2 separate regions of the Homo sapiens genome follow, and region 2 is linked to region 1. The links come from fine-mapping of genetic effects on gene expression. A gene starts in region 1. The other region holds a variant in brackets. All regions are shown on one strand. Distances are between the middles of the regions.

Region 1 (2,908 bases):
GACCCCGCATGATTTCCAAGCTGATCTTTTAATCTGGGGGAGGATCACGGGCTGTGGGGATGCTGGGATACAGGTCCATAGGTTCACCCTCTACAAAGAATCACACATCTTTCCTTGGGCCACACAAAGCAGTTGCTCTTCTGTTACAGGAAAAGGGTCCTGATCCAGTCCCCAAGAGAGGGTTCTTGGATCTCCCGCAAGAATTCAAGGTGAGTCCAAAGTGCAAAGTGAAAGCAAGGTTATTAAGAAAGTAAAGGAATAAAAGAATGGCTACTCTGTAGACAGAGCAGCCCCAAGGGCTGCTGGTTGCCTATTTTTATGGTTATTTCTTGAAGATATGCTAAACAAGGGGTGGATTATTCATGCCTCTCCTTTCTAGACCATATAGGGTAACTTCCTGACATTGCAGTGGCATTTGTAAACTGTCATGGTGCTGGTGGGAGTGTAGCAGTGAGGATGACCAGAGGTCACTCTCGTGACCATTTTAGTTTTGGTGGGTTTTGGCCAGCTCCTTTACTGCAACCTGTTTTATCAGCAAGGTCTTTATGACCCATATTTTTGTGCTGACCTCCTATCTCATCCTGTGACTTAGAATGCCTTAACTGCCTGGATAGGCAGTCCAGTAAGTTTCAGCCTCATTTTACCCAGCTCCTATTTAAGATGGAGTTGTTCTGGTTCACATGCCTCTGACACTTCCAGCTCTTCCACCCACACACATCTTCCCTGTCTTGGGGCAGAGGGCAGTAGCCTCGTACCCTGAGGATTCTTGAAGGTCTGGGGTCCGAGCAGCTCCATCAGAAGCCCCATCGGGGACCTCTGAGGGGTCAGTGACAGTCCCTGGGGACAGACGGTGGCTCCCCAGGACGCTTTCCCTATTAAGCCACTGGCAGAGTCCAGACACTTTCACTGGGTTGAGAGCTAGAAGGTCAGAGAGCGGGAGAGAATCCAGAGGTAGGTTCAGGGTTACTGTTTTGCTCAGCCCTGGATGGCCAGGCCCAGCCTCCCGCATTCTACTGGAAGGAGGAGGAAGATGGGTTTAGTTCTTCCCAGGGCAGGAGAGAGAAGCACAATTGTGGGCTGGGTTCCTCCTGCCTCTGAACACAGCGCCATCCCTTCTCCCAGGTGCTGGGCTGGGGTGTGTGGAAGATGAAGGAAAAGTGAATTAACTAAATAGGGTTCCTGCAGTGTCTGGAAAGCCTCTAAACCCCCGAGCACCTCAGGCTTCCCTGCCCTGATTCAGAGGTGAGGTTACCTAAAAGCCAAGGAAGCCTGGGCTTCGGGGACCCTCACTCACAGGCCCCCTTCCAAAAAAGCCCTGCACCTAAGCTTGTACTGGGACTTCTGTATTATTTTTCCCAAAGGGCGCTCCCCACGTTGTATACACTTCCGGCCCCCAAATCTGGATCCACCCTGGGAAGGGACAAACTGGGGGCAGCCTACCCACATTCGGCCAGCGGGGGGTCCGACCGGCCTTGGTATCTCCAAGCGAGGTAACAGTAGTCGCCCCTTGCGTCCCTCCCCCTCCGGGGCGCATCGCCCCTTGCGTGCAAAGCCCCGGCACCGCCACGAGTCTCGCCTCGCCCTGCACAGGTAAACAGCCGCTGGCCGCCGGCCGGCCGCCCTGCAGGGCAGCCCGGGGACCTGCCCCCGGCGCCACGCCCGGCGCCCCGGGGAGGCCCAGCCCGCAGGCCCCGCCGACTGGGCGCCGCGCCCTGGGAACGTGCACCGGGGCAGGCAGCCCGGCCTCACCTGGCCCCAGCGCGGAGCCGGATCACACCTGCCTGCTGGGTGAGCCGAGGGCATTCGCGGAAGGGAAGAGACAAGACCTGGGAAGGGACGCCTGTGGCTTAGAAAGACCCTCAGGCAGGGCCGGGCGTGGGGCGCGCTGATAAAAATTCCTGGAGCTGTATTATTCACATCGCAGATTTGTCCCTTTGCCTCAATCTAAAAGGAATGGGAAAGAACAGCCGCTGGGCTCTCATTTGCTTCCAGCTTACACAGATTCAACTATCAATTATCCCAGAGGAGAGGCGTGCAGTGCAGGGCGTTGGGCCACGAAACTGAAAGCTGCTGGCGAGGCGCGTGGGGGAGGTCGATTTCTGCGTCCTGCTGCCTCCACGCACAGTGAGAACCCACCCCGCCACTGCGTTCCTGTCCTCACAGGTAAAGTCAGGATAATAATATCTACCTCACGGGGGATTCGAGGAAGTGGTGGGAGCGTAAAGCCCCGTCTGGTAGAGTGAATACCTGAGCAATGGCCTTCCGGTCCCGTCTTCAGCACAGCAGGACGAAAATGTCTTCTGTTGGGATCCCAGAGAAGATCCAGACGCTGACACCTGCCCCTACCTCTCTACTTCTCATCATACCGGTCACCTGGAAGAAGGGTCCATTCAAAGCAAAGCCTGTAGCCAATGAGTTGTTTCTGCCATCAAACAGTCAAGCATATGAGGCCCAATAGGCAGTCCTGTTTTTTTTGTGACAGAGTCTCACTCTGTCGCCAGGCTGGAGTACAGTGGCGTGATCTCGGCTCACTGCAACCTCCACCTCCCGGGTTAAAGTGATTCTCCTGCCTCAGCCTCCCGAGTAGCTGGGATTACAGATGCACGCCACCACGCCGGCTAATTTTTGTATTTTTAGTAGAGACGGGGTTTCACCATGTTGGCCAGGATGGTCTCGATCCACTGACATCGTGATCCGCCCGCCTCGGCCTCCCAACGTGCTGGGATTACAGATGCGCCGGCCAGGCAGTCCTGTTAAGCCATGCCACACAGCTTAAAAAAAGACACTGGCAAGCTCAAGTCCCGAAGTTACCAGCTGAAGGAAGAGACTTAAACCAAACCAAGGGCTTCCTATGACAGTTCTGAAATACCCTCTTCCCTCTTGAGTCCATACAACTGAGAAAATAGAA
Region 2 (2,908 bases), 310 kb before region 1:
ACAGCCAGGGCTTCCGGGAGGGAACCATGAGAGCACAGGCTGAAGACAGGAGGGGACAAGCATTTCAGGAAATGATGAAGCATTAAGGACAGTCAGGTGCAGACAGAGCCCAGAATGAGTGAGGCTTAAAGAACTGAAGGAGGCCAGATCATGACAGAGCCACAGATGCAGTGCTGAGATTGCATGGTTTCTTTTTTGTTTTGTTTTGTTTTGACTCAGAGCCTCGTTCTGTCGCCCAGGCAGGAGTGGTGCAACCATAGCTCACTGCAGCCTCCACCTCCTGGGCTCAAGCCATCCTCCTGCCTCAGCCTTCTGAGTATCTAGGAGTATAGGTATGTACCAACATGCCGGGATAAGCTTTTTTATTTTTATAGAGACAGAGGTCTCACTATATTGCCCAGGCTGGTCTCAAACTCCTGGCCTCAAACGATCCTCCTGCCTCAGCCTCCCAAATCACTGAGATTACAAATATGAGCAAGATTACATGTTATCATGGGGGAGGGGCGCATAAGATTCTCAGACCAGGAAATTACGTAATCAGAACATCATTTTAACACAGTGAACACACATCTCTGTCTGCCCAGGATAATCCACTGGCATAATTATCAATGGAACCCCCATTCACTCATAAAAGCACTTTCCTTTAGATGAAGAATTACATGATCACTCTCAGTTTAGATCACCCTGCTGTCCATGGGACACAGAAACCAGGGGCAAAAGGAGGCTGGACCAGAGAGCCATTCAGAGGCCATATCAACTATCCAAGCAGGAGGTAGGGACTTCCAAAGGCAGAGAACTCATGGGAAGGCAAAGTACTAGATCAAAGTACCAATTTGAAGGCAGATTCAACAAGACCGATTGATTACCAGACGAGTGATGGAGAAAGAAATAAGCAGACCCACTAGATGACTGACAGTTTAGTATCAGATATGGGGACTGGACAGGCTGAGCAGGACATTCTTGTGTAAGAGGGCAAGGAGCTGGCAATGAAAATCTGGAGCACAGAAGAGGCCAGAGCTGGAGATGTGGATTTGGCAGATGGCAGAATCCTGGGGACAATCATGGCTGAAGAGGGAGGGTGTGAGACCACCCAGGGAGAGGGTCAAAAAGATGACAGTGAGGGTACACTGAGATGATACTGAGACTTGTGCAAAAGAAAAGAAGATTCAGGGAGAAACAGGCTCATGGACACCTGTGGAGAAGAAGGTTTGGGGATGACTGCCAGGATCAACAGAGCCAGACGCTCCTGCAGGAGTGAGTAGGTTGGAAGAGGACAATGGGAAAGACCTTTGAAAGTTCCATTGCACCAGAACAGTGGGGCAGAGGCAAATTCAGTGGGTTGAAGAGGGAGTGGGAGGTAAGGAAGTGGTGTCAATAAGTACAGATGATTCTTTGGATAAATCTGTTAGTGAAAAGAAGGAAAGAGATGAGACTGTGGTTTGAGGGAATAATTTTTTTAAAAAAGAGGGGGCAGGGAAGCATTTGGGAAGTTAAATGTGGAAGTTGAACATATTTGAACACCGAGAGGAAGACAGTGGCAAGAAGAGGGGGTGTGAAGTTGCCAGAGATAACCATTTGGAATAAGGTAGGAACAGATGG[C/T]TTCTGCTCCAGTGGAGAGGCCATCCTTAGACAAGAGGTAGGACTCTGGAAGGAAGCGAGGCTGCACTTGGAGGGAGTGAATGCTGCAGGTGGTGGTGCCTATAGTAGTAGTATTATAACATCATTAGTAGTAACAATGAATGGTTAACCTTACTTTTTGTTTACATGCAAGTTCTCTGCATTGTTTAATCCTCACAACAGCCCCATTTTATATGTGAGAAAACTGAGCCCAAGAGAGGTTAATTAAGTTGCTCATAAACCACTGTAAAAATGCCAGAAGGTGGATTGAAATCCAGGTCTTTCCAATGGCATAGCCAGACTTGTGGGCCACTTGGAGTCAGTATAGACCAATGGCTCAGTCCTCTCAGTGAGCTGGAGGTGAAGTCATCTTCTGTGAATGATGGGGGTGGATGTGGAGGCCTGAGGAAGGAGGAGAAGAGTCGAAACAGCTGCTGGGAAGAATGCAGTAGGGATGAGCCAGAGAAAAGAGAGGGCACGGACAGCTTCCCAGGGGTACTGATAGTAGATTCCATCTCGTTCTTATCACCCTCATTCCCAGCCCCATTTCCTACCAGGGGCATGCACCCCATACTCTTCTCATTTATTTTGTGTCTTCTCTCCTCTAATCCCTCCATCAAAGGAAATAAGAGCCATGTGCTCAAGTGGAATGGGTCAGATTCTTCCCACTGCTGGAGGACTTGGTGATGGCCAGTGGGTAGAGCTGGGGAGGTGGTCCTCAGGGCCTTTGTCCCACCAAGAACACCCTTGGCCTGAAAGGCTTAGGGAAGCAAGGCATTCACCAGGCAACAGGGATTGCAGATGGAGTGTCTGGGAGCTGTGCCTCTGCGTTTAGAGGGCCAGCGTTGCTGTTTCTGCCTGGGCCCAGCCAATAGCAGAAGAGAGCTGGAGCCAAAGCACTTGTCCCAGGTGAACCAGCCATCTTCTATTCCATTAACAAGCCTGTTCATCCCGTGCGACCTCTTTCTACCAGAGATCTATTAATTTTAGCTAACAATCAGTGAAGAGGACACCATTTGATCCCAGAGCTTAAACCCATACTTCTTATTCACTGGTTTGACCACTTTGAAAATAGTAGCAGGATCAAATAGGCTGAGCCTCCCTCTTTGGACAGAACTTCATTGAATTGTAAATGGAAGGTGTTAGCCTTGGAGACAAGCTTAAAGATATGGTATTACTGCTTGTTGGATGTGGACCACCACTTATAAAAACCTACTAAGCCACTGGTCAAATTGATAGAATCCATACAGTACCAGAATCTAGAAAACATGGGGCTCAACTCAAATTTCCA

Which allele goes with the higher level. Positions count from the first base shown, and alleles are read on the strand shown. Sizes are in standard deviations (SD) of each study's normalised expression.
In carriers of allele C in region 2, the expression in lung of the gene that starts at base 1,542 in region 1 tends to be lower than with T alone (small effect, 0.19 SD a copy in GTEx).

What was found. PIP is the estimated chance that this variant, and not a neighbour inherited with it, causes the effect.
Region 2: its variant is fine-mapped to the expression of LINC00511 in lung (GTEx, PIP 0.99).

Annotation. Positions count from the first base shown.
Region 1 is chr17:72,638,931-72,641,838 of GRCh38, forward strand. It overlaps LINC00511 (long intergenic non-protein coding RNA 511), which reads right to left and starts at 1,542. Exons shown (of 5, transcript NR_033876.1): 1 at 1,441-1,542. LOC105371887 (a long non-coding RNA gene) reads left to right here and starts at 1,745. Exons shown (of 4, transcript XR_934961.3): 1 at 1,745-1,788; 2 at 1,993-2,163.
Region 2 is chr17:72,332,439-72,335,346 of GRCh38, forward strand. No RefSeq gene overlaps it. Among named protein-coding and RNA genes, the nearest start is that of LINC02003, 8.9 kb to the right of the region's middle. The variant C/T (reference allele first, on the strand shown) is at 1,600.